Linked DNA regions of Homo sapiens: region 1 is linked to region 2. Evidence: fine-mapped expression QTL. A gene starts in region 2. The other region holds a variant in brackets. All regions are shown on one strand. Distances are between the middles of the regions.

Region 1 (15,972 bases), 94 kb after region 2:
TTTCCAGGAGTAATTGCTTGCCCTTCTATGCGTTAGTGTGGCAGATTCAGAAAGGCCTGCTGGGGTGGAGGTCCTGCTGTAAACCATTTGTTCCTGACTTTGGGTTTTTGGCTGATCAGATGGGAGATAGAATGAGCATATTTGCATTGGTTCTTGGCCACCATAGTCTGAAGTATGTGCCTGGTCGCTCACTGCCTTGGTCCTACAGGCATCAATATGTTCACAAGTTAGAATTCATGCATTGCTAGTGTTAAAGAGAAGGGTCAGGGACATTTGTGACTCAGTCTTAAAGTGTGCAGGGAATGTCCTCAATATTTTAGAGCTAGTCATTCAGTTAAATAAATAAAAACACTACATTTCTGTGAGGAAAACTCAGAATGTATAGGGTGGAAAGTATAAAGGGAAAAATAAAAGTTGCCTGGCCCCCTCCCTACAAGTAAGAGTAAGATCTTACTCCTCAGAAGGAAGCACTACGTATAAACTTTCTTGCTGCCAGAAATGTTCAATATGTCCTTCCTTTCTTTGCCCTCCTTTTTTCCTCTCCCCACAGTATAATCAACTTAATTTGCATAGTTTAGCTCCAATTTTGAAGCATTTTTTAATGAGTTAGTGAGAATCCCAATAATAAACTGACTCATTTAGAGTTATCAAGGCATATTATTCCAAACCCTGGTTTACAAAACCTAGTGTGAGAGGCAACATGTCGTGGACCCCCAGCGTTTGGCCATGAAACCAGAAAGTTCAGGATATCTAGGGGATTTCACACATATTTCCTAAATTCCAGAGCTACTGTGCTTTCGGTGGTCTAATTAGGTTTTACAAGAAAGTTGCAACATTTTAGGCAATCCACAGTCCAAAATCAGAGGTTGACAAATTTTATATTAGATATCAGGTTCTTATTGCCGTCTCTCCTAGAATGAAACTAGTAAGCCCATGGGGTGCCTTTAACTCACAGGAAGTAACTGTACCGCAATTTACCTGCCTTAAAACAAAGTTTTAAAAACTTGAAACCTGAAGGTGTTCTTCCTTTTGTTTCAGAATAGCACTGCTGTGCAAATGTATCGAATTGTGGCTACAGTATACTCAGAAGAGGCGGTACAAGCAGGTATGGAGTACTTTTTAGCAGATAGCTCTACTGGCTTACATTCTTGGACCCATTTGCTTTGGAAAGATTCTTGGAAAAGACCTATGCCAAGAAGTCTTATCGTTCTGCTTTGGAAGAGAGGGTGTTGAAAAAGCTCAAAGTCATTTCTTCCAGTTCCCACCTCTAATATCAGAAAGTCTGCATAACTCCCATTTCTTATCTGCTATGAAAATACAAGTTCTCTCTGAAAGTACTGAGCTCTTATCAGCCATTCACATCTTTACTCAAATTCATTTAGTCTCTGAGTTAGCCAGCCCTTCACCCAGTGGGACCTGCAAGAGGTACAGGGAGAGGTGCAGAGCATAAGTGCTGCATCCCAGTGCTAAACAGTGTGAGACACATGTCTCCCGGGGGTGGAGGATGTGAGGTCAGGACCACAAATAAGTAAAGGCAGATTGAGAAAGATAGATTCAATTCCATTTAAGAAATACTTATTGAGCAACTGCTGTTCTTCAGACACTGCACTAAGCACTGAGGATACAACTGTGATATAAAGTCAATAAAATTCCTGCTCTCCCAGGGCTCATACTTTAGCACCAGGGTGACAAATGAGTGTGACCTTACAAGCCCGTTCTACCAATTGGGAGTACCTGTCTGGAATGTTGAAGTGAGAAGGATTTCAAGGCCATATTTACACTCAGTGGGAAAGGGTTCAGTTGATGGCATCTGCCATTGTGAGAAGTGCCCCCTTTTTGGTCATCTCTGGCAGTGAAACAGAGGAAGACACAAACCAAACTCCTCCCAGTTATTTTCGTGCTGCCCACCCTACCCGTACCTCCATCTTCTGTTGGAGTCTAACAGGTGAATCTTTAGATTCACCTGTTAGCTAGTTCCCTATAGTTTGGGGATAGAATCCAAATTTTTAGCAAGGCCTACAAACTCCTTCGGGAGCTGGTCCCTGTCTGTTTCTCTCCCCTTTCCTGTTACCACTCTGTTCCTTCACAACTGCACTCTGACCAGTTAAGCTGCCAGTGGTTCCCTAAAGGTCCTCTGTGCCCTCCTGCTTCTCTTTGTACCTCCAGTTCTCTATTTCACACTCCCTTCCAGCTCAGATGTCACCTCCTCCCCCAGGCCAGTCCACCTCCACCCCTACCCCAGAGGCATAGCTTTATCAGAACATTCATCTTATAGTTGTTCACTGGCTTCTCTTTCCCCACAGGCTGTGAAGTCCTTTAGAGTACAGCCTGTCCCTTTTGCCTCCTTAGCCCACAGTGCTTGGCATGGGATATGTGCTAATATTTGGATGAATTAATGCACAGACCAACAAATGAACTGCTGTTGATTTCTTCAGAGTTTTTTTCCAAGGATGATCTAAGTCGATAGAGCTTGGATGCTACAGGGCATGGCCTCTTTTTGCGTCACTCTTGCCTCCTACACTTAAGAAATGCTAGAGTCACTGCATTCTTTGACATGCCTTTGGATTATGTTACTGGCTTTGAAAAGACATTGCCACTTGTTATCTTAAGTTCATGTAATACAAGTTCACCAGAATGCAGGAAAGCCTTTCAGAAAAAGACTATGAGTGTCAGAGTTGAAAGGTTGTATTTATTCAAGGTGGAGAGCAGAGGGTCTCTTTTATTTCCTTCCTGGAAAACGAGCACTCCCCTTGACACAGGGGCCCAACACTGGCGGACAGTCCAGGGTCAGCGTTTTCATCTCTCACACTGATCTAGCACGGCCTGCTTTCAAAGGTATAGCGGGTCTGAAAAATGGGAAGAGCACTGCTTAGTCATTCCTAAACCTTTAGCTAACAATCTGAATATCACCTCTTGGTATAGGTATCCCAGGAGCACATCAGATCTTTCTATTCTTAGACAAGATAAAAATATTATTTTTTGTGGGTTTCTTCCTTTTTAAAAAGTAACATACAGTCAGCCCTCTGTATCTGTGGGTTCCACATCCATAGATTCAACCAACCATGGATAAAAAATATTCAGAGGAAAAAAAGAGTAGTTGTGTCTGTACTGAACATATTCAGACCTTTTTTTCTTGTCATTAGCCCCTAAACAATATATAAACAATATAGCATAACAACTATGTACATAGCATTGACATTGTATTGGGTATTATGAGTAATCTAGAGATGCATACAGGAGGACTGTGTAGGTTATATGCAGATGCCAATTTATTTGTTTTGTTTTGTTTTTGAGACAGGTTTCACTTTGTCACCCAGGCTGGAGTACAGTGGCATGATCTTGGCTCACTGCAGCCTCACTCTCCCCAGGCTCAAGCGATTCTCCTGCCTCAGCCTCCCAAGTAGCTGGGACTACAGGTGCAAGCCACCACGCCCAGCTAATGTTTGTGTTTTGTTTTTTTTTTTGTAGAGGTGGGGTGCCACCATGTTACCCAGGCTGGTCTCAAACTCCCAAGCTCTGCCTGCCTCAGCATCCCAAAGTGCTGGGATTACAGGCATGAGCCACTGCACCCGGCCTGCTATACCATTTTATATAAGATACTTGAGTATCCATGGATTTTGGTATCTGAGAGGGGCCCTGGAACCAGTCCCCCACAAATACCAAAGGATGGCTCTTTGCAGAATGGCGAATGTTTGCTAACTGTTGAAGCTTGATGGTAGGGTCATGGGTATTCATTATACTGTCGGCTTCTACTTTTGTTTACATTTGAAAATGCCCATAATAAAAAATAGAAAAGCAATGTGTAGATATTATAGAAAATTTAGGAAGTATAAAAAGATATAAAGAAGAAAAAATAAAACCATTCATGACATTTGATGGGTAAGCCTGGTATCTCTCTTCCTCTGTTTGGGTAGGAGTGTATGTACCTATCTATTCACATACACATACATATGCATACTGATCCAATTATCTATTGCTATGTAAAAAATCACCCCAAACTCAGTGGTATAAGACAACAACCATTCTATTATGCTTTATGGATTATCAAAGATTGAGACAGGACTTAATGGGAATGGTTGGTTTCTGCTCCAAGATCAGCCTCAACTGAAAAGATTCTAATGGCAAGGGGTTAGAATTATCTAGACGTTTTCTTCACACACATCTAGATCCTGGATTAGAATGACTCAAAGACTGGGCTCAACTGGGAATGTTAACCAAAGAACCTGTGTATGACCTCTCTGTGAGGCTTGGGCTTCCTTACAGCATGGTGGCCTTGGGGTAGTCAGCTATCAGAGCTTCAAAATGAGTGTTCCAGTGAACAAGTCAGAAGCTCTGTGGCTCTTTGTATAGCCTCAGAACTCACACAGTGCCACTTTTACCATGTGCTATTGGTCAGAGCAGTCACTATCCCAGCCAGATTCAAGGGGAGGGAACATAGATCACTTCTCAGTGAAGGAGGAGCAAATAATTTGCAGCCATGTTTTTAAAACCTCTACACATTTGGGCTGGGCACGGTGGCTCATGCCTGTAATCCCAGCACTTTGGGAGGCCAAGGCAGGCAGATCGTGAGGTCAAGAGATCAAGACCATTCTGGTCAACATGGTGAAACCCTGTCTCTACTAAAAATACAAAAATTAGCTGGGCGTGGTGGCGCACGCCTGTAGTCCCAGCTACTCGGGAGGCTGAGGCAGGAGAATCACTTGAACCCGGGAGGCGGAGGTTGCAGTGAGCTGAGATTGTGCCACTGCACTCCAGCCTGGCAACAGAGTGAGACTCTGTCTCAAAAAAAAAAAAACAAAAAACAACAAAAAAAACAAAAACATAAAACCTCTATACATGCATATATGCTTTTTCCCCCCAAAGTTTTGGATCATGGAGACATATATGGTATATTCTTATGTCCATTGTCTGTCTTCCTACTGATGTATCAGTAAAATAGTAGACTTTTATAATTACATTAATGTGTATGACAAACACTATAAACAAAATCAAAAGATATATTATGGGGTGGGGAAATATTTAAGATTTATAACACATGACAAAGGACTAATAAATTGTTTAGGTTCAAAAACCCCATACATATCACTGAGTCAAATGCTAACAGACAGTGAAACAGGTAATGGGTATGAACACCTAAGCCAGGGGGAAGAGAGAGTGAGTGAGAGTGTGTGTATGTGTGTGCGTGTGTGTGTGTGTGTGTGTGTGTAGAAATGTTTAACTAATGTTTAAGTGAAAATTTTTTTACCTATCCTATTTCATTTTTCACCTAGCATATTGGCAAAGATAATAAATAATGATTCATCTTTTTCTCATTTTTATTATATAGGAAGCAATCCTCCCACAAGGGTGTGACCCTGAGAGGTCATGTTTAAAAAAAAAAAAGTTAAGTACAAAGGTTATTCATTCTTTTACTTTAGCTGCTACAGGCCAGAGCGGATGGTCATTTCCAGCAGAGAGCCCTGCCTGCTGCCTTCCACACATGGAACAGACTCTGGCGATGGCGCCACCAGGAAAATGTCCTCAGTGCAAGAGCAACACGTTTCCACAGGTATGTTGCGCAGCTCCTGTCTGCACTGGGGCAGGTGTTTCAAATCTAACTCTGACAACCACACAGCCCATTTGCTGTGCTTTTCAGCTTCCCAGACCCCAGGCCCTAGTACTTCCTGGATTTTCAGTAATGTGGGCTCATTGATTTCATCTAGCAGGAAAAGACAAGACAGTGTTTCCCCTGGGAAATCTTTTGTCCATCTTTATTTATTTATTTTTTTTGTGTGTGTGTATATATGTATTTATTAAAAAAAATGTGTAGTGTTTAATCTGAACAGCCAGTGGCTTAGTCAAGTTAACATATACATGAAGAGACTTATTATGAGGAATTGACTTACACTATTATGGAGGCTGAGAAGTTCCATGACCTGCCATCTGCAAGCTGGAGACTCAGGAGAGTGGGTAGTGCAATTCCAGTCTGTGTCCAAAGGCCTGGGAACCAAGGGGCCTCGAGGTGTAAATCCCAGTTGAAGGGCAGGAGAAGATGAGATGAGATCTGCCCACGCAGGCAGGCAGGAAGCAAAAGGGGCAGATTCTTTCTCCTTTTGTTCTACTCAGGCCCTCAAGGGGTTGGCTGAGGCCCCCGTACATTAGGAAGAGAAGTCTGCTCTACTGAGCCCACAGATTCAAATGCTTGTCTCATCTGCAAACACCCAGAAACACTGTTTAATCTGGGCACCCAGTGGCCCAGTCAAGTTGACACATAGAATCCACCACCATGGAGTAGAGAGAAGTCACAGAATCAGACTGCTTGGGTTCAAATCCTGGCTCTGTTCTGTGACCTTGGCCAAGGTACTCAAATGACCAATTCTCTAGTTTTCTCATCTCTGCAGTGGGGGAGTAATAGTGCTTACCTCAAAGGGTTATTCAGATTTTGGTAATTGGCTGTTGAGCTATTCAGATTTTCTAATTCTTATGTCAATTAATCATTTCAAGTTTTTTTTTGAGACAGAGTTTCACTCCTGTTGCCCAGGCTGAAGTGCGGTGGTGTGATCTCAGCTGACTGCAACCGCCGCCTCCCGGGTTCAAGCGATTCTCCTGCCTCAGCCTCCTGAGTAGCTGGAATTACAGGTGCCTGCCACCATGCCCAGCTAATTTTTTGTGTTTTTAGTAGAGACGGGGCTTTCACCATGTCAGCAAGGTCTCGAACTCCTGACCTCAGGTGATCCACCTGCCTGGGCCTCCCAAAGTGCTGGGATTACAGGCGTGAGCCACTGCGCCCGGCCAGCGTTTCAAGTTTTTAAGAGAATGTGTCCATTTCCCCTTCTCTTTTTATTTTATTTTTATTTTTATATATATTTTTAAATTTGAATTGCTTCTCTCTTTTTCTTGATTAGTTTTACTACTGGCTTTTCTATATTCCAACTTTTTTCTTTTTATTTATTTATTTATTTATTTATTTATTTTTTTATTGATAATTCTTGGGTGTTTCTCACAGAGGGGGATTTGGCAGGGTCATGGGACAATAGTGGAGGGAAGGTCAGCAGACAAACAAGTGAACAAAGGTCTCTGGTTTTCTTAGGCAGAGGACCCTGCGGCCTTCCGCAGTGTTTGTGTCCCTGGTTACTTGAGATTAGGGAGTGGTGATGACTCTTAATGAGCATGCTGCCTTCAAGCATCTGTTTAACAAAGCACATCTTGCACCGCCCTTGATCCATTTAACTCTGAGTGGACACAGCACATGTTTCAGAGAGCACAGGGTTGGGGGTAAGGTCACAGATCAACAGGATCCCAAGGCAGAGGAATTTTTCTTAGTGCAGAACAAAATGAAAAGTCTCCCATGTCTACTCCCTTCCACACAGACACGGCAACCATCCGACCTCTCAATCTTTTCCCCACCTTTCCCGCCCTTCCATTCCACAAAGCCGCCATTGTCATCCTGGCCCGTTCTCAATGAGCTATTGGGCACACCTCCCAGACGGGGTGGTGGCCGGGCAGAGGGGCTCCTCACTTCCCAGTAGGGGTGGCCGGGCAGAGGCGCCCCTCACCTCCCGGACGGGGCGGCTGGCCGGGCAGGGGGGCTGACCCCCCCCACCTCCCTCCCGGACGGGGCGGCTGGCCGGGCGGGGGGCTGAACCCCCCACCTCCCTCCCGGACGGGGCGGCTGGCTGGGCAGAGGGGCTCCTCACTTCCCAGTAGGGGTGGCCGGGCAGAGGCGCCCCTCACCTCCCGGACGGGGCGGCTGGCTGGGCGGGGGGGCTGACCCCCCCCACCTCCCTCCCGGACGGGGCGGCTGGCCGGGCAGAGGGGCTCCTCACTTCCCAGTAGGGGCGGCCGGGCAGAGGCGCCCCTCACCTCCCAGACGGGGTGGCTGGCCGGGCAGGGGGGCTGACCCCCCCCACCTCCCTCCCAGACGGGGCGGCTGGCCGGGCAGGGGGCTGACCCCCCCACCTCCCTCCCGGACGGGGCGGCTGGCCGGGCGGGGGGCCGACCCCCTCACCTCCCTCCCGGATGGGGCGGCTGGCCGGGCGGGGGGCCGACCCCCCCACCTCCCTCCCGGACGGGGCGGCTGGCCGGGCAGAGGGGCTCCTCACTTCCCAGTAGGGGCGGCCGGGCAGAGGCGCCCCTCACCTCCCAGACGGGGCGGCTGGCCAGGCGGAGGGCTGACCCCCCCACCTCCCTCCCAGACAGGGCGGCTGGCCGGGCGGGGGGCTGACCCCCCCACCTCCCTCCCGGATGGGGCGGCTGGTTGGGCAGAGGGGCTCCTCACTTCCCAGTAGGGGCGGCCGGGCAGAGGCGCCCCTCACCTCCCAGACGGGGTGGCTGGCCGGGCAGGGGGGCTGACCCCCCCCACCTCCCTCCCGGACGGGGCGGCTGGCCGGGCAGGGGGCTGACCCCCCCACCTCCCTCCCGGACGGGGCGGCTGGCCGGGCGGGGGGCCGACCCCCTCACCTCCCTCCCGGATGGGGCGGCTGGCCGGGCGGGGGGCCGACCCCCCCACCTCCCTCCCGGACGGGGCGGCTGGCCGGGCAGAGGGGCTCCTCACTTCCCAGTAGGGGCGGCCGGGCAGAGGCGCCCCTCACCTCCCAGACGGGGCGGCTGGCCAGGCGGAGGGCTGACCCCCCCACCTCCCTCCCAGACAGGGCGGCTGGCCGGGCGGGGGGCTGACCCCCCCACCTCCCTCCCGGATGGGGCGGCTGGTTGGGCAGAGGGGCTCCTCACTTCCCAGTAGGGGCGGCCGGGCAGAGGCGCCCCTCACCTCCCAGACGGGGCGGCTGGCCGGGGGGAGGGCTGACCCCCCCACCTCCCTCCCGGACGGGGCGGCTGGCCAGGCGGGGGGGCTGACCCCCCCATCTCCCTCCCGGACGGGCTGGCTGGCCGGGCTGAGGGGCTCCTCACTTCCCAGTAGGGGCGGCCGGGCAGAGGCGCCCCTCACCTCCCGGACGGGGCGGCTGGCCGGGCGGGGGGCTGACCCCCCCACCTCCCTCCCGGACGGCACGGCTGGCCAGGTGGGGGGCTGACCCCCCCACCTCCCTCCCGGACGGCACGGCTGGCCGGGCGGGGGGGCTGACCCCCCACCTCCCTCCCGGATGGGGCGGCTGGCCGGGCGGGGGGCTGACCCCCCCCCACCTCCTTCCCGGACGGGGTGGCTGCCGGGCGGAGACGCTCCTCACCTCCCAGATGGGGCGGCTGCCGGGCGGAGGGGCTCCTCACTTCTCAGACGGGGTGGTTGCCAGGCAGAGGGTCTCCTCACTTCTCAGACGGGGCGGCCGGGCAGAGACGCTCCTCACCTCCCAGACGGGGTCTCGGCCGGGCAGAGGCGCTCCTCACATCCCAGATGGGACGGCGGGGCAGAGGCGCTCCCCACATCTCAGACGATGGGCGGCCGGGCAGAGACGCTCCTCACTTCCTAGATGTGATGGCGGCTGGGAAGAGGCGCTCCTCACTTCCTAGATGGGATGGCGGCCGGGTGGAGACGCTCCTCACTTTCCAGACTGGGCAGCCAGGCAGAGGGGCTCCTCACATCCCAGACGATGGGCGGCCAGGCAGAGACACTCCTCACTTCCCAGACGGGGTGGCGGCCGGGCAGAGGCTGCAATCTCGGCACTTTGGGAGGCCAAGGCAGGCGGCTGGGAGGTGTAGGTTGTAGTGAGCCGAGATCACGCCACTGCACTCCAGCCTGGGCACCATTGAGCACTGAGTGAACGAGACTCCGTCTGCAATCCTGGCACCTCGGGAGGCCGAGGTTGGTGGATCACTCGCGGTTAGGGGCTGGAGACCGGCCCGGCCAACACAGCGAAACCCCGTCTCCACCAAAACCAGTCAGGCGTGGCGGCGCGTGCCTGCAATCGCAGGCATTCGGCAGACTGAGGCAGGAGAATCAGGCAGGGAGGTTGCAGTGAGCCGAGATGGCAGCAGTACAGTCCAGCTTCGGCTCCGCATGAGAGGGAGACCATGGGGAGACGGAGACGAGGGAGAGGGAGAGGG[A/AGAGGGG]CAGGGAGAGGGAGAGGGAGAGGGAGGTGTCCATCTTTATTTCAAGGGCTTTCAAAACAGCCTGTTTGTAACCTTCATTATTAGCCACTGAGAGCTCCATTAAAGCAGCCCATTAGCTTTCTGGATCAGAGCACGGTGGGACCTTGCCTCACCTTGGCAGACATTCTTAAGTGTCATTTCCCCGAAACACTTAGTTCCTGTTCTGCTAGACCTGGCTTTTTGAAGTCTTGAAATGATAGTCATCAACAAAATTACAAAGGTCGGGCCGGGTGCAGTGGCTCACACCTGTAATCCCAGCACTTTGGGAGGCCGGAGCGGGCGGATCACAAGGTCAAGAGTTCAAGACCAGCCTGGCCAACATGGTGAAACCCTCTCTTTACTAAAGATACAAAAATTAGCCCGGTCTGGTGGCACATGCCTGTAATCCCAGCTACTCGGGAGGCTGAGGCAGGAGAATTGCTTGAACTTGGGAGATGGAGGTTGCCGTGAGCTGAGATCGCATCATTGCACTCCAGCCTGGGTGACAGGGCGAGACGCCGTCTCAAAAAAAAAAAAAAAGAAAAGAAAAAGGCCGGGCCTGGTGGCTCATGTCTGTAATCCCAGCACTTTGGGAGTCCAAGGCGGGCGGATCACGAGGTCAGGAGATCAAGACCATCCTGGCTAACACGGAGAAACCCTGTCTCTGCTAAAAATACAAAAAATTAGCCGGGCGTGGTGGTGGGCGACTGTAGTCCCAGCTACTCAGGAGGCTGAGGCAGGAGAATGGCATGAACCTGGGAGGCGGAGCTTGCAGTGAGCTGAGATCACACCACTGCACTCTAGCCTGGGCGACAGAGTGAGACTCTGTCTCAAAAAAAAAAAAAAAAAAAAAAATTAGAAAGCTCAAGGAGCAGATCTACATCTTTTTAGTTCCCACAGGGACAAACTTGCCCACAGCAGGTTCTTAGTATATGGTGGGACATAATGAAGAAATAATAATAATTTATTTATTTATTTATTTATTTATTTTTGAGTTGGAGTCTTGTCCTTTCGCCCAGGCTGGCATGCAGTGGCACCATCTTGACTCACGGCAAACTCCACATCCTGGGTTCAAGTAATTCTCCTGCCTCAGCCTCCCAAGTAGCTGGGATTACAGGTGTGCGCCACCACGCCCGGCTAATTTTTTGTATCTTTAGTAGGGACGGGGTTTCACCATGTTGGCCAGGCTGGTCTCGAACTCCTGACCTCGTGATCCACCCGCCTTGGCCTCCCAAAGTGCTGGGATTACAGGCATGAGCCACCACGCCCAGCCTGTAATGAAGAAATTATTAATCACTAACTGTATGTCTGCCACTGTGTTGGGCATTGTGTGATGGGAGACAGAAAACAAATACATAAACTCATTCTGCCCATGGCATCATTATCTTCATTAATAATTTCCTTTTCACAGTGATTCTGAGAGGTCAGGTTCAAAATGATAAATGGTAACACAACCAGTAAGTGGTACAGCCAGGTTAATTCACATCTCCAGTTCCAAAGTCCAGGTGCTTTCTTCTTGATCAAGAGGAAGATCTTTTTGATGACTTTGTAGGAGGGTGAAATTTTTGTGAGGAGATAAGAAACAACTGAGAACCAATTCAAGAGAACAGATCCACGTGTCCCCAGTCATGTCAGCCACAAGTTCTTCCAGTGCTCAGAGCTAGTGCTGAGGGAGACTGAGCATGGAAGTATCTGGGAGAGGCTTCCTGTGAGTGAGAGGGTGAGGATGGTGGCTGGAGTGGGCAAGATGGGGAGGCCCAGACTGAAGAGATTGGGCTGACCCTATAGATAGATATTCGAAAGATATTTGAGCAGGTACATGGAACTAGTAAAATGACAGTTTTGGAAATTACCTTAAGTTCAGTGTACTTTATCTTAGGACAGAGGGGTGAGATGGAGGGGCATGCATTGGGAGAAGTTGCAGTCATCTTTAATCTGGAGGATTTCAGGCCAGGTGTGGCGGCTCATGCCTGTAATCCCAGCACTTTGGGAGGCAGAGGTGGGTGGATCATTGGAGGTCAGGAGTTTCAGACCAGCCTGGCCAACATGGTGAAACCCCATGTCTACTAAAAATACAAAAATTAGCGGGGCGTGGTGGTGCATGCTTATAATCCCAGCTACTCCGGAGGCTGAGGCACAAGAATCACTTTAACCCAGGAGGCAGAGGCTACAGTGAGTTGAGATGGCGCCACTGCACTCCAGCCTTGGATGACAGAGCGAGACTCCATCTCAAAATAAATATCTCTCTCTCTCTCTATCTATCTGTCTATCCATCTGGAGGGCTTTGAATGCTAGTTTGAGGTTAGCCAGAACTCTGGCTTCCTTAGTACGAAGTCCAGGGAGATGGTTTTAGGTGGTGGCCACGGGAAATAGAGGCTGATGAAAGGACATCTCTTGTCTCTTCTGGCTTCTGCAGACAGAGCAGCTTTGCCTTTACCTAGTCATGTATTGTGGGCTGGTATAAGATTCATTCAAAAATGGCTTCAGGCTGGACGCGGTGGCTCACACCTGTAATCCCAGTACTTGGGGAAGCTAAGGCAGGTGGATCACCTGAGGTCAGAAGTTGGAGACCAGTCTGACCAACATGGCAAAACCCCATCTCTACTAAAAATACAAAAATTGGCCAGGCATGGTGGCGCACATCCCAGCTACTCGGGAGGCTGAGGCAGGAGAATCGCTTGAACCTAGGAGGTGGAGATTGCAGTGAGCCGAGATCGCACCACTGCACTCCAGCCTAGGTGACAGAGCAAGATTCCATCTCAAAAAAAAAAAAAAAAAATGGCTTCAGTACTGAAAACACGCACACACAGTACCCGTTTCTAAATGGCTTCAGTACTGAAGACACGCACACACAGTACCCGTTTCTAAATGGCTTCAGTACTGAAGACACGCACACACGGTACCCGTTTCTAAATGGCTTCAGTACTGAAAACGCGCACACACGGTACCCGTTTCTAAATGGCTTCAGTACTGAAGACACGCACACACGGTACCCGTTTCTAAATGGCTTCAGTACTGAAGACACGCACACACAGTACCCGTTTCCAAATGGCTTCAGTACTGAAAACATGCACACACAGTACCCGTTTCTTTTTTTACTGTCAAGTAGCCGTGCTTGGTTCTATTCTTTTTTTGTATTTTGTATGCTGTGAGAACCAAAAATTAAAAGTACCTTCCAAATAGCCAAGAGGAGCCTTTAAAGGATTTTTGCTAGGGAGCAGTTTGGGTGGTTTTAGAGCTATCACTCTGGAGAAAAAGGGCAGAGGGCGACTTGGAGACAGGGTATAGCCAGGAGGCTTGCAGGACGGTGTAGGCCTGATCTAGATTTTTACCTGTTTTGGCTTGGTTGGACCTTTTCAGTAAACTTGGTTTTTTGGATTCCTGTTTTCCTTGTTCATGAGCAGAGTGATTGAGAGTCTGGCTTAGAAGCTGGACAAGCCTGAGTTCAGACCTATGCTCTGTCGCCTGCCAGCTCTGTGACCCTGGACAAGTCAGTCTGTCTCTCTGAGCCTCAGTCTCCTCGAATGTAAAATTGAGATGATGTGGTCATAGTCTCTATCTCATATGGTTGTCATGAAAATGAAATGGGAAAACATGTAAAATGCAAACCAAGGGCCTAGCATAAAAATATGAACTGTCCCTGTGGCCCCTGGAGTTGTTTTAATTTGTGACTCTCATGGTAAGTACATTTTCAGAGGATTGGTTTGGAGTTTAGCAAATTAAAGTTCCAAATAAATATGTATCTTTGATATTCTTAGGGTATTTTTTAATGTTTTAGGAATATAGACAGATTTTATGATGGAATCTCATGAATTATGGCTAAAAATAATTTTTATAACCCTCCAGTGAAAGGTACTGAGAATGAGACAAAATTGGTTTGTCTTTTATTTTAATCGAGATAAAATGTGTATACAGTGAAAGGCATAGATTTTAAATAAAGTTCGATGAGTTTTCATAGGTTTTTTTTTTTTTTGAGACGGAGTCTCGCTCTGTTGCCCAGGCTGGAGTGCAGTGGCGTGATCTTGGCTCACTGCAAGCTCCACCTTCTGGGTTCATGCCATTCTCCTGCCTCAGCCTCCTGAGTAGCTGGGACTACAGGTGCCCACCACCACACCCGGCTAATTTTTTGTATTTTTTTTTTTTTAGTAGAGAAGGGGTTTCACTGTGTTAGCCAGAATGGTCTGGATCTCCTGACCTCATGATCCGCCCGCCTTGGCCTCCCAAAATGCTGGGATTACAGGCGTGAGCCACCATGCCCGGCCGAGTTTTCATAATTTATGCACCTATATAATCAACACTCCAGTCAAGATACAGAACATTTCTGTTACCCCAGAAAGTTCCTTCATGTCCCCTCCAGTCAGTCCCTACCCTGCATAGGTAACCAGTATTCTGATTTCCGTCATCATAGGTTAGTTTTGCATGGTTTTTTTCTTGTCGCCCAGGCTGGAGTGCAGTGGCGCTGTCTCAGCTCACTGCAAGCTCTGCCTCCCAGGTTCATGCCATTCTCCTGCCTCAGCCTCCCGAGTAGCTGGGACTACAGACGCCTGCCACCACGCCCAGCTAATTTTTTGTATTTTTAGTAGAGACGGGGTTTCACTGTTAGCCAGGATGGTCTCGATCTCCTGACCTCGTGATCCGCCCGCCTCGGCCTCCCAGAGTGCTGGGATTACAGGCATAAGCCACTGCGCCTGGCCTTTTTTTTTTTTTTTTTTTTTTTGATGAGCAGAAGTGTTTGAATTCTGTTGGATTGATACAGTCCAGTTTATCTTTTTTTTTTTTTTTTTTTTTTGAGATGGAGTCTTGCTCTGTTGCCCAGGCTGGAGTGCAGTGGCACGATCTCAGCTCACTGCAGCCTCCACCTCCCAGGTTCAAGCAACTCTCCTGCCTCAGCCTCCTGAGTAGCTGGGATTACAAGCGCACACCACCACGACCAGCTAATTTTTGTGTTTTTAGTAGAGACGGGGTTTCACTGTGTTGGTCAGGCTGATCTCGAACTCCTAAGCTTGTGATCCGCCCGCCTCGGCCTCCCAAAGTGCTGGGATTACAGGTGTGAGCCACCGCGCCCGGCCCAATTTATCCTTTTTTTTTATGGTTAGTGATTTTAGGGTCCTCCCTAAGAAATATTTGCTACTCTAAGATCTGAAAATATATTTTCCTATATTTTATCTGGAAGCTTTATAGTTTTAGCATTTACATTTAGGTCAATGATCATCTTGAATTTTTTTTCTACATATGATATGACGTAGGAGTCAAGGTTTATTTTTTTCTGTGTTTATCAGGTTTTTCCAGCACCATTTGTTGAAAAGCCTTTTTTTTTGAGACAGAATCTCGCTCTATTGCCAGGCTGGAGTGCAGTGGCAGTGGCACAATCTCGGCTCACTGCAATCTTCGCCTCCCAGGTTTAAGCGATTCTCCTGCCTCAGCCTCCCAAGTAGCTGGGACTATAGGCACACGCCACCACGCCCAGCTAATTTTTGTATTTTTAGTAGAGACAGGGTTTCACCATGTTGGGTTGGCCAGGATGGTCTCCATCTCTTGACCTCGTGATCCACCTGCCTTGGCCTCCCAAAGTGCTGGGATTACAGGCGTGAGCCACCGTGCCTAGCCCAGACTAATTTTTTTTTCTAATTTTTTGTAGAAAAAGGGTCTCACTATGTCACCCAGTCTGGTCTCAAACTCCTGGGGTCAAGTGATCCTCCTGCCATGGCCTCTCACTGTTCTGGGATTACAGGCGTGAGCCACCATGCCTGGCCCAGTTCTGTTTAGAATTAATATACCATTTCATGTTTAGTGCAAGAACATGAAAACAATAAAATTCTATTTTGTCCCCATCCTTGATGATATTTTTATTGTTGTTATTTTTTTTTTTTTTAAGAAATAAATCATAGTGGGGATTCACTATGTTGTCCAGGCTGGTCTTGAACTTCTGGGCTCAAGACATCCTCCTGCCTCAGCCTTTCAAAGTGCTGGGATTACAGG
Region 2 (15,972 bases):
GCGCCCCGGCGCCCGCGCTCACGCACGCGACCCCGGGAGCAATGCGCCCGCGCCCCTTCTACACCCGGGAGCACCGGGCGCGCGGTGCCCCGGACCCAGCCGCCACCGCCGCCGACCCTTACTCGGTGCCTCCGCCGCTCGGCGGCCCTTTGCCTCGGCCGCCGCTCCCCTCCCCGCTGCCCGCACCGGTCCCAGCGCCGCTCCCCGCAGCCTTCGCTCTCGCGCCCCCACCCCGACCGGCTTGGGCTGTCTCTCTTCAGCCGCCGTAACTGCAGCCCGGCCCTCCGCCCCTCCTCTTCGGCCCCCTCCCCCTTAATAACTCCCTCCACGCACCCTGGCCCCGGCGCCGCCTTCCCCGCCGCGCGCCCGGATGTGAGGTGGCTGCAGCGGTGCCGGGCGAAAAAGAAGCATCGCCGCGCGCTTCCCGGACGCCAGCCCCTGCGCGGGCCGGGGGGTGGGAAGGTGGTGGCGGCGAGGAGGAGGCCACGGTGGGGATAGCGGAAACCCGCTCCCGTGCGCGCAGGCGGTCGCCGTGGGCAGCCCAGAGGCCACCGCCGCCGCGTTCCCACGCGCGCTGCAGGGCAGAGCGGACGGCACTTGGGACCCGCGACTCGCGGCACGCCACTCTCCCGGAGGCGGTGGCTAGATGGGGCTGGGCTGGCGGCTAGCACGGCCTGTGGCGCGACGACCGCTGTATTTGCATGGTTCGCATAGGCAGAGAACCGTGGGGCTTCGGCAGTGGGAATTTGAGATAGGAGATTGGGGTCTTCCGAGCCTTCCCAGTGCGGGTTCGAACCTCAGCTGTTTTGCGAGTGGCGTGATCTTAGGCAAAGCTGACTTAACCTAAGTTTCGGTCGTGTTTCTAAAATGGCCTCTGTAAATCTATGAGGCTTATGCGCGAGTACTGGTTGCTGCATTAAAAGACAAACTTGTCACGATTGGCTTTGATAGCGATAAAGGCGACTAACAAATTCATTGAAATGTTGTTTCCCTCCGGTAACCTGAATCTGTCCTTAGCCTGCACAGAAAGGGGAAGTGCGAGTGGAGTTGGGGAAATGAGACGGCGAATGTCAAGTGCTTACCACGTAGTGCAGACTCAGGCTGACAGGGGGCCACAGAAATGCAAATATGTGAGCAGTGTGGGTAACTGCATCCTGGGGAGGAAGTCCTATGTGCTGGAATACCACAAGCACCCATTTCTGCCCTGTGGTACTGCGCAGCGTTGGTGTGAAGCGATACATAGGCGTGAAGTCCCGAGAACGCAATTTTCCTGGTTAAAGGACAGCAACGTCTACATTTCTTCCAAGAGGCCTACTTTGTTGGAACTTCACTTCACTTGTGAAATTAGGGTGTTGGGCAGTGAGTGACCACTAACTCAGCTCCCTTCTTGTGAATCTTGGCAACAGAAAACTTTTCGTTTGTATTACTGAATAAAGTGTGTTTCTTACAAACTGTTTTTTTACAGGCAAGAGGCAGAGGGAAACACTTGCACATCAGGCCTGAGTTTGCATTCTCATCTCTGCCACCTCCTACAAGCTATGGAGAGTTAGTCTATTGATTCTTAGTTTTACCTGTGAAATTGCGAAGATGATATAACCTGCTCATGGGGCAGTTAAGATTAAACAGGATAAGGTGGGTAAAAAACCATATATAACCCATAAAGCTGCTGAGCCTTTTTAAGCCTATACAGAGACACGTTGCAGGTGATAATACAGATGTTATTATTTTAACAATCAAGCTGTTTTTGGAATCCAAATTCTTCCTAAAGCTGTGGGAAACAGGTCTAATCCCCTTTAGTGTCTTGGAGACTCCCTGGAGTAGTGGAGAAGGCCCGTTCTTTGAAGCTGCTAAATCCTGACCCTGCCAATTAGTGTGAAACCTGAGCCAGGCATTTCACCACCTGGATCTCCCTTTCCTCATTTTTCCGAAAGGGATCGCAGTATACCTACTTTTTAGGCTTGCAGAGGGAATTAAAGATAACATTAAAAACACTGCTCTGGTTATTTTATTTTGGGGGTGATGAAGTCTTGCTCTGTCATCCAGGCTGGAAAGCAATGGCACAATCATAGCTCACTGCTCCAGCCTCAGCCTCCCAAATAGCTGGGACTACAGGCTCCTGCCACTACAGCAGGCTAATTTTTAACGATTTTTTGCAGAGACGGGATCTTGCTATGTTGCTCAGGCTGGTCTCAAATTCCTGGCCTCAAGTGATCCTCCTGCCTCAGCCTCCAAAAGCACTGGGATTACAGGCATGAGCCACCACACCTGAGCTTTCTTGAAAAAGAAAATACTAGAAACCCGGAAATTATGGATTTCTGGTTACCTACTGTTACGTAACAAACCACCCCAGAATTCCAATTATATTTTGCTCTCAAATCTGCAAAATGGGCTGGTTCCTGCTGGGACGGCTGGTTTCTGATCCATTCAGCACCAGTGGGGGCAGCCCAAAGGCTGGGGCTGAGGGTCCCGTAAAAGCGTACATGTCTGGTGGTTGATGGTGGCTGTCAGCTAGGACCTGGGACCATTAGAGCTGTCCCTGGAACACTTACACATGGCCTCTCCCTGTGTCTGAGCTTCCTTGAAATATCAGGGCTGGATTCTAAGGGCAAGTGTTCAGAGAGCGAACAAGAAAGCCATATAGTTGCTGTATTGCCTTTCCTAACCTAGCCCTGGAATCAGTTCTACCACGTGCCACATTCTGTTCCTTAGAAAGGAGTCAGCACGGCTACCCTATATTCAAAGCAAAGGAACTTAGACTCCACCTCTATGTGGGAGGAATGTCAAGGAATGTGTAGGCATGTTTTAAACCACCACAAGCCATACATGATATCAGTGCCCAGGGCATTGTAGCTATCATGATTTGATAGCTGGAACTAATTTCCTGAGCCCTCTGGTCTATCCTACTTAGGACCTACTTTTCCACTAGGCTCCTTTAATGTCTTGTAGAACTTTGGCCTCAACTCATTTCTTACCTCTCAAAGTCTCACTCTGTCCTTATAGAAGAAGATGGTTATTACCTAGGAAAAAAGGTAATAATCTAAGGGAGGCTTCCCTAAACTTCTTTCACCTGTGCCTGGCAAAAGCTAGATGCTTACAAATTGCAAATTCTTGTTTCATTGTAGTTTTTGAGTGTTACTCTCCTTGGCAGGATAATTTTTATTTTTATTTTTTATTTTTTGAGAAGGAGTCTCGCTGTATCGCCCAGGCTGGAGTGCAATGGTGTGATCTTGGTTCACTGCAACCTCTGCCTCCCAGGTTCAAGTGATTCTCCTGCCTCAGCCTCCTGAGTAGCTGGGATTACAGGCGCATGCCACCACGCCCAGCTAATTTTTGTATTTTTAGTAGAGACAGGATTTCACCATGTTGGTCAGGCTGGTCTCAAACTCCTGACCTCATGATCCGCCCACCTCGGCCTCCCAAAGTGCTGGGATTACAGGCATGAGCTACCACGCCCGGCCTGATAATTTGTAATTTTTTTTTGAGACGGAGTCTCGCTCTGTCGTCCAGGCTGGAGTGCAGTAGCGTAATCTCGGCTCACTGCAAGCTCTGCCCCCTGGGTTCAGGCCATTCTGCCTCAGCCTCCCGAGTAGCTGGGACTACAGGCGCCCGCCACCACGCCCGGCTAAATTTTTTATTTTTAGTAGAGACAGGGTTTCACCACGTTAGCCAGGATGGTCTCGATCTCCTGACTTCATGATCCACCCGCCTTGGCCTCCCAAAGTGTTGTGATTACAGGTGTGAGCCACCGCGCCTGGCCTATAACTTGTAATTTTTTGAGACCAAGTTTTGCTCTGTCGCCCAGGCTAGAGTGCAGTGGCACAATCGGCTCACTCAACCTCTGCCTCCTGAGTTCAAGCAATTCTCATGCCTCAGCCTCCCAAGAAGCTGGGACTACAGGCCTGTGCCACCACACCTGGCTAACTTTTGTATTTTTAGTAGAGATGGGGTTTCACCATGTTGGCCAGGCTGGTCTGAACTCCTGACCTCACGTGATCCCCCAACCTTGGGTTCCGAAAGTGCTGGGTGTGAGCCATCGTGCCAGGCCAATAATTTGTAATTCTAAATGCCCCCTTCTGCAACTAATAACCAATTTTCAAGTATCAGCTTGGGAAAGCTCTTTGAGAGAGAAATTATTCTAGTTCTTTACTAAATATGTGTAAGATCTTGGTTTAGGTCTAAATTGTTGGCCCAAAGTTTGGCATAAGGGGTCTCAAAGGTTCAGTCAGTCGGGGAAATTAGCAGTCCAAGAACAGCAGAGAAGCAAATGAAAATACCAGAAACTGGCCGGACATGGTGGCTCATGCCTGTGATCCTAGCACTTTGGGAGGCTAAGGTGGGAGGATCACTTGAGATCAGGAATTCTAGACCAGCCTGGCCAACGTGACCAAACCCCGTCTCTACTAAAAATACAAAATTAGCTGGGCGTGGTAGCATATGCCTGTAATCCCAGCTACTTGGGTGGCTGAGCTAGGAAAATTGCTTGAACCTGAGAGGCGGAGGTTGCAGTGAGCCGAGATCGCGCCACTGCACTCCAGCCTGGGTGACAAAAGTGAAACTGTCTCAAAAAAAAAAAAAAAAGAAAAAAGAAAATACTAGAAACCCAGAAATTATGAGAGCACCTGTGAGAGAGTTTAATGCCAGGCCATGACCTTTCAGCAGCCTCATCACAGAAGGCTGGATTGCACCTCTCTAAATGGGCTTTTTCCTACTCAGTTTTTCTTGCTCCAAGAGTAACCCTTAGATTTTTTTTTTTTTCGAGACAGAGTCTCGCTCTGTCACCCAGGCTGGAGTGCAGTGGCAGGATCTTGGCTTACTGCAACCGCCCCCACCAGGTTCAAGCGATTCTCCTGCCCCAACCCCCCGAGTAGCCGGGATTACAGGCTCGTGACTCCACGCCTGGCTAATTTTTCTATTTTTAGTAGTAGAGATGGGGTTTCACCGTGTTGGCCAGGCTGGTCTCAAACTCCTGACCTCAAGTGATCACCCACCTTGGCCTCTCAAAGTGCTGGGATTATAGGCGTGAGCCACCGCGCCTGGTCAAATTTTTTATATTTTGTAGAGATGGGCACTATGTTGCCCAGGCTGTTCTTGAACTACTGGGCTCAGGCAATTCTCCTGGCTCAGCCTTCCAAAATGCTCAGATTACAGGTGTGAGCCACCGTGCCCAGCCTCTAAGATGTCCTTGTCCTAGCTATTATTATGTACTATTATCTTCTAATCTTTCCCAACAGGACTATTTTCATTGTAACTCAAATGGAAATGCCTTTCATCCCTCCTAAATTTGTCAAAGCTGAGGATGGTAAATGCACATAACAGGAAGAAAGCATTAGGAAATTAGCTCAAATCATCTAGAAAGAAGTGCTTATTGACTTATCCTAAATATATAATTTATATAAATTTACATAATTACATAAAAGTACTTAGGCTAAATTACAGTAAATATATTTTTGTTATACTGTTAATTACAACCTTGAAGCTTACTAAATTATTTTAAAACTACTTGGCCACATTAAGTTCAGATAAAAGTTGTCCCTAAAACATTAGCATTGATGTCCGCTAAAGTAGAACTCCCTTTAAATTATTATTATTATTATTATTGAGACAGTTTTGCTCTTGTTGCCCAGGCAAATGCAAATACACGATCTCGGCCCACTGCAACATTTGCCTCCTGGGTTCAAGCGATTCTCCTGCCTCAGCCTCCCCAGTAGCTGGGATTACAGGTGCCCACTACCACCCCCGGCTAATTTTTTAAATTTTATTTTTAGTAGAGACGAGGTTTCACCATATAAAACATAATTTAGGGCCAGGCGCGGTGGCTCATGCCTGTAATCACAGCACTTTGGGAGGCCGAGGCGGGCGGATCATCTGAGGTCAGGAGTTCGAGACACACCTGGCCAACATGGTAAAAACCGTCTCTATCAAAAAAACAAAAAAAAATTAGCCGGGCGTGGTGGCGTGCGCCTGGGAGGCTGAGGCAGGAGAAACACTTGAACCCGGGAGGTGGAGGTGGAAGTGAGCCCAGATCACGCCACTGCACTGCAGCCTGGGCTACAGAGGGAGACTCCTTCTCAAAAAATAAATAATAAATGTTTTAATTGCAAAAATTAGCATGTAGAAAATAGGGCAAAAATACAAATTGTCTGTGATGCTAAGCCCGAGACACCCAACAAGTTAATTTTCCTGTTTTTAGCGTAAAATCTTTCAAATAAATAACTACTGCTTTTAGTCTCTGCACCAGGAATCTCACGTGCTTTCAAATGTTTTACAAAGCACGTAAAAAAGTATTTGAAAAGTCCCACTTACCCCTCCCACTCCTATTTTTAAGATTATTAGGATCGGCCCAAATTTAAAAATTTAACAAAAAGAGTGCTTATTAATTACATTTTAAAATGAAGGGTTACAAAAAGAGATGAGCCTGGCATTTCTAATTCGGGGGCCTTGGGACCTCTCCCCTCCAAGTGCAAGTTGTAGCAACCTGCCGGGTCCACGCATGGGCGGGTCATACTCCACGGGTTCCGGTTTCCACTCCCTGTGAACCAAAAGCCAGAGAGGCCCACGCACGAGTCCGGAAGTGAGGGAGGGAGGACTTTCGTACGCAGCCGCCTCCCAGCTGGAACCTCATCTTTAGTGCTCGGCCGCGGGCGGCGTAACTCGGGGTTCCGCCTCGGAATACCTCCCACTTCTCTTGTCTAAGAGGAGCAGTAGCAAGCTGAGCTCAGAGCGAAGCTGGCGAGCCAAGGAGATAAAGAACCCTCGGTGGGGATGCCCAGAGGGTGCATGCTCCACGCCCCTCGAAACCGATTCTCATTGCTGCTGCTGCAAAGCAACCCGAAGTGCGCCACCTACCCGACTGAGGCTGCGCAAGCCCCGGGGTCTGGGCGGGGTGGTCCTCGTGCGCGCCGCGTCGCCGTGGAGACGAGGGCGGGCCCGCGCGAGACTGGCGTCTAGAGGCGCGCGAAGCGCTGAGGCGGGCGTGGACCGCGCGGGAGTTAAGAAGCAGGTCCCGGATCGCCGTATACCGCCGGGTTTTCTCCCAACGTCAGGCCCGATGGCTCGGCTTCCCCAGGTACGAGGCCCGGCCCTAACGTCCCCACCCTCTTCTGGGCTCGGCCTTTCCGGCAGTGAGCCCGGCAAGGACCTCAGTCGGGTTCCTCCGAGCCCGGTGAAATCTGTCCGAGCCTCCGCTTCCTCCCCTGAAAGTGCAGGTGATGTTGTCTACCTGCGGGTCTGTGGTGCGGGAATGGAGGAAGTGCGACAAGAGGGCGCAGGACGGGGCCCGGAGCCTGCCATCCTCTCCCGCCGCGTCTTCTCGGCTTCTTGTCTTCCGCCCTGGGGGCACCGCATCCTCCCAGGCGTCTAGTGCGCTCCTGGCCGGTGCTCGAGTCCACGCAATGCCCCTTAGCGTGCGCGGATCCAAATCAGGGGTTTCCTCCTCCCGGCTCCGTGGCCCAGGAGCGGAAGGGCTGGTATATGGGCGACCTTACTCCCACTGAGCCCGCAGGGAGTAACGCAGTAAACAAACCTGGAAGCCTTCCCCGCGTGGGAGGTGGGTACCTGTTTTTATGGGAGGCTGTTCAGGTTTCTTAACTGCTGTGTAGATGTGTTGTAAATATTTGTTGAATGAATGATGTGAGGGACTTGAGTACAGCCATACCTCGCTTTATTGCACTTCACAGATACCGTGTTTTTTACAAATTGAAAGTTTGTAGCAAGCAGCCCTGCACCGAGCAACTATTTTTTCAACAGCATGTGCCCACTTCCTGTCACTTACACTTTGGTAACTATCGCTATATTTCAAACTTTTTATTTCAGGTGCACCGTTACAGTGATCTGTGATCAGTGATCTTTGATGTTGTTATTGCAATTGTTTTAGGTGGCCACGAACCTCACTGGTATAAGACAGCAAACTTAAGTGTTGTGTCTGACTGCTCCACTACCTGCCAGTTCCCTGTTTCTCTCCTCCCTCTCGGTCCTCCTTGTAGCCTGAGAGGCAACAATATTGAAATTAGGCCAATTAATAGCCCCACAGTGGCCCCTAAGTGTTCAGTGAAAGGAAGAGTTCCATGTCTCTCACTTTATATCAAAAGCTAGAAATGACGAAGCTAGAAATGACGAAGCTAGAAATGCCTATGCTCTGTAAATGCAACAACAAACCCAGGATGACCACACATCTCTTTACTGAATGTCTTTACATCATATTTACAGTGTGGTTTACTGAATATTTTAAGCCTACTATCGAGACCTACTGTTCAGAAAAAAGGATTCCTTTCAAGATATTACTGGTCATTAACAAGGCACCTGGTCACCAAGGAACTCTGATGAAGATGTACAAAGAGATTAATGTTACTTTACATGTCTGCTAACACAGTATGCATTCTATAGCCCATGGTTCAAGGAGTAATTTTGACTTTCAAGTCATTATTTAAGAAATACATTTTGTGGGCTGGGCATGGTGGCTCATGCCTGTAATCCCAGCACTTTGGGAGGCCGAGGCGGGTGGATCACGAGGTCAGGAGTTTGAGACCAGCCTGGCCAACATAGTGAAACCCCGTCTCAACTAAAAAATACAAAATATTAGCCGGATGTGGTGGCGGGCACCCATAATCCCAGCTACTGGGGAGGCTGAGGCAGGAGAATCACTTGAACCCGGGAGGCGGAGCTTGCAGTGAGCCAAGATTGCGCCATTGCACTCCAGCCTGGGCGACAGAGTGATGAGACTCCATATCAAAAAAATATATATATATTTTGTGACCCCATAGCTGCCATAGGTAGTGATTCCTCTGATGGATCTGGGCAAAGTAAATTGAAAATGTTCTGGAAAGGATTTCTAGGTGCCATTAAGAACATTCATGATTTGTGGGAAGGGGTTAAAATATCAATTCCAGCCTGGCCAACTTGAAGAAACCCTGTGTCTACTAAAAATACAAAAATTAGCTGGGTGTGGTGGTGGGCGCCTGTAATCCCAGTTACTCAGGAGGCTGAGGCATGAGAATTGCTTGAACCCAGGAGGCAGAGGTTGCAGTGAGCCAAGACTGCACCACTGCACTCCAGCCTGGGCGACAGAGCAAGACTCCGTCTAAAAAAAAAAAAAATCATTAAAAGGAGTTTGAAAAAGTTGAGTCAGGCCGCCATGGATAACTGAGAGACTCAAGACCCGAGTGGAGGAAGTAACTGCAGATATGATAGAAAAATCAAGCAAACTGGAATTAGAAGGGGAGCCTAAAAATGTGACCAATTGCTGCAACCTCATGATAAAACTTGGATGGATGAGGAGTGGCTTCTTTTTTTCTTTTTTTTTTTTTTTGAGATGGAGTTTCACTCTTATTGCCCAGGCTGGAGTGCATGGCACACTCTTGACCTCCTGACCTCATGTGATCCACCTGCTTCGGCCTCCCAAAGTGCTGGGATTACAGACCTGAGCCACTACATGCCCGGCTTTGTTTTTACTTTTGTTTTCAGACAGGGTCTTGTTCTGTTGTCCAGGCTGGAGTGCAGTGGTGATCATGGCTCATTGCAGACTTGAACTTCTAGGCGAAAGTGATCCTCCTGCCTTAGCCTCCTGCCTCCTCAGTACCTGGGTGTGTAATACCATGCCTCGCTAATTTTTTTTTTGAGATGAGGGTCTTGTTAGTTGAGCAGGCTGGTCTTGAACTCCTGGTCTCAAGCAGTCCTCCTGCCTTGGCCTCCCAAAGTGCTCACCACAACCTCCGCCTCCCGGGTTCAAGTGATTCTTCTGCCTCAGCCTCCCGAGTAGCTGGGATTACAGGCATGTGTCACCACGCCTGGCTAATTTTTTGTATTTTTAGTAGAGACAGGGTTTCACTGTGTTAGCCAGGATGGTCTCCATCTCTCAGCCTCCCAAAGTGCTGGGATTACAGGTGTGAATCACCGTGCCTGGTGAAAGTGGTTTCTTGAGTTGAAATCTACACCTGGTGAAGATGCTGTGAACATTGTTGAAATGACAGCAAAGGATTTAGAGTATTACATAAACTTAGTTGACAAAGCAGTGGTAGGATTTAAGAGGATTGACTTCAATTTGAAAGATGTTCTACTGTGGGTAAAATGCTATTAAATAGCATTACATGCTATAGAGAAATCTTTGATGAAAGGAAGAGAGTCCATCGATGTGACACACATCACTATTGTCTTATTTTAAGAAATTGTCATAGCACTTTGGGAGGCTGAGGCGGGCGGATTACCTGAGGTCAGGAGTTCGAGACCAGTCTGGCCAACATGGTGAAACCCCGTCTCTACTAAAAATACAAATATTACCAGGCACGGTGGTATGCGCCTGTAGTCCCAGCTACTCCAGAGGCTGAGGCAGGAGAATCGCTTGAACCCAGGAGGCGGAGGTTGCAGTGAGCATTGCAACCACTGTGCTCCAGCCTGGGCGACAGAGTGAGACTCCATCTTAAAAAAAAAAAAAAAAAAACATTGAAAATGCCACAGTTGCCGGATGCAGTATAATCCTGCATTACAGGCTCATGCCTGTAATCCTAGCACTTTGGGTGGCTGAGGTGGGCGATCACTTGAGGTCAGTAGTTCAAGACCAGCCTGGCCAACATGGTGAAACCCTGACTCTACTAAGAATATAAAAGCCAGTTGTGGTGGCGGGCACCTGTAATCCCCACTATTTGGGAGGCTGAGGCAGGAGAATCGCTTGAACCCGGGAGCTGAGATCGCACCACAGAGTGAGACTCTGTCTCAAAAAAAAAAAAAAAAAAAGAAAAAATAAATTGCCATAGCCATTCCAACCTTCAGCAATCACTACCCTGATCAGTCAGCAGCTATTAACATGGAGGCAAGACCCTCTACTGGCAAAAATATTACAACTCACTGAAGAATCAGATAATTGTTAGCATTTTTTAGCAATAAGGTGTTTTTATTTATTTTTATTTTTATTTTTGAGACAGTTTCATCTCATCACCCACGGTGGAATGCATTGGCATGATCTTGGCTCACTGCAACCTCTGCCTCCTGGGTTCAAGCGATTCTCCTGCCTCAGCCTCCTGAGTAGCTGGAATTACAGGCACCTGCCACTACACCCAGCTAATTTTGTGTTTTTAGTAGAGACAGGGTTTTGCCATGTTGGCCAGGCTGGTCTCAAATTCCTGATCTCAGGTGATTCTCCCGCCTGGGCCTCCCAAAGTGCTGGGATTACAGGCGTGAGCCATTGTGCCTGCCCAATAAAGTGGTGTTTTTGTGTGTGTGTGTTTGTTTTGTTTTTGTTTTTTGTTTTTTTTTTTGAGTCTGAGTGTTGCTCTGTCACCCAGGCTGGAATGCAATGGCGTGATCTCGGCTTGCTACAACCTCCGTCTCCCAGGTTCAAGCAATTCTCCTGCCTCAGCCTCCTGAGTAGCTGGGATTACAGGTGCCCACCACCACCACCAGCTAATTTTTGTATTTTTAGTAGAACGGGGTTTCACCATATTGGCCAGGCTGGTCTCGAACTCCTGACCCCGTGACCCACCCACCTTGGCCTCCCAAAGTGCTGAGATTACAGGTGTGAGCCACTGTGCCCGGCCAAATATTTTTAAATTAAGGTATGTACATTAGTTTTTTAGACAATGCTATTGCACACTTAACTACAAGTGTAGACATAACTTTTTTTTTTTTTTGAGACGGAGTGTAGCTCTGTTGCCCAGGCTGGAGTGCAGTGGCGTGATCTTGGCTCACTGCAAGTTCTGCCTCCTGGGTTCACGCCATTCTCCTCCCTCAGCCTCCCGAGTAGCTGGGACTACAGGCGCCCGCCACCACGCCCGGCTAATTTTTTGTATTTTTAGTAGAGACGGGGTTTCACTGTGCTAGCCAGGATGGTCTCGATCTCCTGACCTCATGACCGCCCATCTCGGCCTCCCAAAGTGCTGGGATTACAGGCGTGAGTCACCGTGCCCAGCTGACATAACTTTTATATGAACTGGGAAATCAAAAAATTCATGTGACTGGCTTTATTTATGTGGTCTGCAGCTGAACTCTCAGTATCTCTGAGGTCTGCCTGTACTAGTCCCAGTTCCGCCACTTGTTAGCTGGGAACCTTGAGCCCTCCAGCTGTAAAATGAAGTTGATAACCACTTGCTGAGGTAGTTATATTAAAGTAGGTAGTTCATGAAAAGTGCTTAGCACTAATGCGTAGCAGAGTACCTTATCTATAGATGTTATTTTGATTATAGTCTATACATTTTTGATTGTGTGGTACTCTCAACATTTTGTTAAAACATAACATTGATAAGAAAAAATTGATTCTGGATGGGTCCACTGTCTGTCTGTAGTTGGCACATTCCTCATGCCTATGTGGGTTTTTGCCGGATGCTCTGATTTCCTCCCATGTCCCCACGATAAGCACATTAGCTTCATTGACATGTCTAAATGATCCTAGTGTCAGTGAGTGTGTGTGTGAGTGTGCAATGCCATGAATGGCTTCCTGTCCAGGGTGGCATCCCCCCTTGTGCCCTGAGCTGCCAGGATACACTCTAGCCAACCTTGACCCTGAACTGGAATAAGTGGGTAAATAATTATCTTACTTGTTCTTATGAATCTTCTGTACATATATGTATAGCTCACATTTATTTCAGTGTTTAATATTAAAAGGGTTTGGATCTTTATTTAGAAGTTTGGTGATGTTTTCTGACCAGAAATATGTTACAGGAACTTAAATCTTGTTTGTATCAACTACCTTTTATGGTAAAATTGGTCTCCTTATACATCATTTTGCTTAAAGTTGCCGTTTCCAAGAACCTATCAATGACATTAAGTGAGGACTTACTGTACTTAGTTCTAGATGAGGCTGGATGATATTCAGGTTCAATTTTTTTTTTTTTTTGAGATGGAGTTTCACGCTTGTCACCCAGGCTGGAGTGTAATGGCGTGATCTCGGCTCCTGCAGCCTCCACCTCCTGGGTTCAAGCGATTCTCCTGCCTCAGCCTCCCAAGTAGCTGGGATTACAGGCACCTGCCACCATGCCCGGCTAATTTTTGTATTTTTATTAGAGACGGGGTTTCACCATGTTGTCCAGGCTGGTCTTGAACTCCTGACCTTAGGTGATCCACCTGCCTCGGCCTCCTGAAGTCGTGGGATTACAGGCGTGAGCCACTGCGCCCGGCCAGGTTCAATTTTTTAGCAAGATTTCATCATGGGTGGTAGCACTTCATCAGTGCTTTGTTGGGTTTATTTTGGTCTCTTTTTTATTTGTTGGAGGTCTTTTCTAAATGTTTTATGATTCTCAATTGTCTGTTTATACTTAAGTGTAACTGAGAGATTATGGCCGAGCGTGGTGGGTCCCACCTGTAATCCCAGCACTTTGGGAGGCTGAGGCGGGCAGATCACTTGAGGTCAGGAATTCAAGACCAGTCTAGCTTAGCCAGGTGTGATGGTACTCAGGAGGCTGAGACAGAAGAATCGCTTGAACCCAGGAGGCAGAGTTTGCAGTGAGCCGAGATTGAGCCACTGCACTGCAGCCTGGGCAACAAAGCGAGACTCTGTCTCAAAAAAAAAAAAAAAAAAAGGTGTAACTGAGAAATTAGTTGGAAGCTCCTTGTGTCTGAGCAGGACTTGTGAGTTCAGGGGCTTCACTTTAGGGTAATCTAGGGACAAGTCTGCTTTTTCATTGATGGAGAGTAAGGCACAGGTCTCAGAATCTGGAGATGTGTTAGTTTTTATTGTTTTCTGAGAAGACTTTTCCAGTCTCCTGCCTGAGAGGTACCATCTAGCTACCAGAATTTTGGAAGCGGGACAGCAGAAGTGGCGTGAATACCCTGTCTGACAGGGTTGGAATTCTGTGTGGTCCACTTTCCTTTGGTATCCACTCTGAAGTTTTTCATTTCCTCAAACCTGTTAGGCCACTTCATTTTCCTTTCTTGTAAAACCTGTGGAAATCCCTCATGTCCTATAATCGCTTCTGTCATCTCTTTAACCTTATGGTTCGTTCCTTTGTATTCTTTGCTGCCACCTTAGAAGGTCAATCTACATGTTTAACTGGGAGTCAACACCTAATAATTTTTGTTTTTCTTGGACTGTTTTTTTTTTTTTTTTTTTTGAGATGGAGTTTCGCTCTTGTTGCCCAGGCTGGAGTACAGTGGTGCGATCTTGGCTCACTGCAACCTCCGCCTCCTAGGTACAAGTGATTCTCTTGTTTCAGCCTCCCAAGTAGCTCGGATTACAGGCATTCGCCACCATGCCAATTTTTTTTTTTTTTTTTTAAGTAGAGACAGGGTTTCACCACGTTAGTCAGGCTGGTGGCGACCTCCTGACCTCAGGTGATCCACCTGCTTCGGCCTCCCAAAGTTCTAGGATTACAGGCATGCGCCACTGTCCTCGGCCATGTTTTGTATTTGATTATCATTATATTCATTATATTCCAACTTATAAGCAAGTTTATATTCATACATGTCCTTATTGAAAGCAAACCTGTGTCCTAGTTTTTCCAGTATATGTGTATTTTATCTGTGAGGTTACAGACGTTGTTTTAGAGGCTGGAGATAGAATGGAGAGAAGATCAGATGTGATTCCTGTTTCCATGGAATTTATATTTTAGTGGGGAAGGCAGACATGTACAAATAGGTAGAATGCTGGTATAGAGTATATAACAGAAGGGAGTCCTTGACCATGAAGGACATTCCACAGGATCATTATGACAGAAACCCAAGGCGGTGACACATTGATTATAGCAGTATTTCACGAAAAATCACTATTTGAATACTCCATTTGATTTATTTATAGAAATAATCACTTATGATGACCTCTGTTACTTGGAGTGTAGTATCAGAAAAACTAGGACATCGGTTTGATGTAAGTAAGGATTATTCGTTTTGTATGGATAAACTGGCTAATTCCTTGTCTGATTGTCATTGAAATATGTGACCTTGATTATAAGGGTGACTTCATTCTTTTAGAATGAAACAACTTGTAAATGCATCACCGTTACTCAACACAGGATGTGTTCACCCTGTTAGCTTGCCTCCACCATTTACTTAAATCTTACTCTTCTGTCTTACTACTTGTATTAGTTTCCTAGGGCTGCTGTAACAAAGTACCACAAACCGGGTGGCTTAAAACTAATAGAAGTTTATTCTTTCACAGTTTTAGAGGCTAGAAGTCTGAAATCAAGGTGTCATCCTCTCCCTGAAGGCTCAGGGGAGAATCTGTTCCATGCCTTTCTCTTAGCTTCTGATGTTGCCAGCAATCTTTGGCAATTCTTGTAGATACATCACTCTAGTCTCTGCCTCTGTCATCACATTGCATTCTCCTCTTTATGTGTATCTGTCCCTGTATCTCTTCTCTTTTAAGAAAGACACAAATCGTGTTGGATTATGGGCCCACCCTACTCCCATGTGACCTCATCTTAACTTACATCTTAATTACTTCTGCAAAGACCCTGTTTTCAGATAATGTCACATTCGCAGGTAGCAGGGGTGAGGATTTCAGCAAATCTTTTTTGGGGAACACAATTCAACCCACAACACTGCTATTCCTGGCACTAAAAGAAAAATAGTAATAATAATAATAATTTAAAAAACTATGCCATAATTTATTCAGTTCCTAATGAATATTTTTGATACAAATTATCACCAATTGAAAATGAAAAATGGGCTCAGGCACAGTGGCTCACGCCTATAATCCCAGCACTTTGGGAGGCCGAGGTGGGCAGATCATTTAAGGTCAGGAGTTTAAGACCAGCCTGGCCAACATGGGGAAACCCCATCTCTACTAAAAATACAAAAAGTAGCCAGTTGTGGTGGTGCATTCCTGTAATCCCAGCTACATGGGAGGCTGAAGCAGGAGAATCGGTTGAACCCGGGAAGTGGAGGTTGCAGTGAGCCTAGATTGCACCACTGCATTCCAGCCTGGGCAACAGAGCGAGACTGTCTCGGAAAAAAAGAAAAAGAAAAAGAAAAAATGAAAACTAGGCAAGGTGCAGTGGTGCCTGTCTGTAGTCCCAGCTACTTGGGAGGCCGAGACAGGAGAATTGCTTGAGG

Alleles and levels. Alleles are on the strand shown, and positions count from the first base shown. SD is a standard deviation of normalised expression in the study named.
For the expression in regulatory T cells of the gene that starts at base 6,965 in region 2, allele A in region 1 goes with a higher level than allele AGAGGGG (moderate effect, 0.64 SD a copy in Schmiedel 2018).

The links. PIP is the estimated chance that this variant, and not a neighbour inherited with it, causes the effect.
Region 1: its variant is fine-mapped to the expression of SFI1 in regulatory T cells (Schmiedel 2018, PIP 0.92).

Annotation. Positions count from the first base shown.
Region 1 is chr22:31,584,030-31,600,001 of GRCh38, forward strand. It overlaps SFI1 (SFI1 centrin binding protein), which reads left to right. Exons shown (of 33, transcript NM_001007467.3): 14 at 1,039-1,105; 15 at 5,418-5,548. Among named protein-coding and RNA genes, the nearest start is that of MIR7109, 30 kb to the right of the region's middle. RefSeq lists enhancers at 6,995-7,804, 8,614-9,422. The variant A/AGAGGGG (reference allele first, on the strand shown) is at 9,976.
Region 2 is chr22:31,489,572-31,505,543 of GRCh38, forward strand. It overlaps SFI1 (SFI1 centrin binding protein), which reads left to right and starts at 6,965. Exons shown (of 33, transcript NM_001007467.3): 1 at 6,965-7,066. EIF4ENIF1 (eukaryotic translation initiation factor 4E nuclear import factor 1) reads right to left here and starts at 271. Exons shown (of 19, transcript NM_019843.4): 1 at 123-271. RefSeq lists enhancers at 1-203, 204-826, 1,226-1,285, 4,723-4,772, 7,047-7,316 and silencers at 26-675, 6,807-7,026, 7,927-7,986.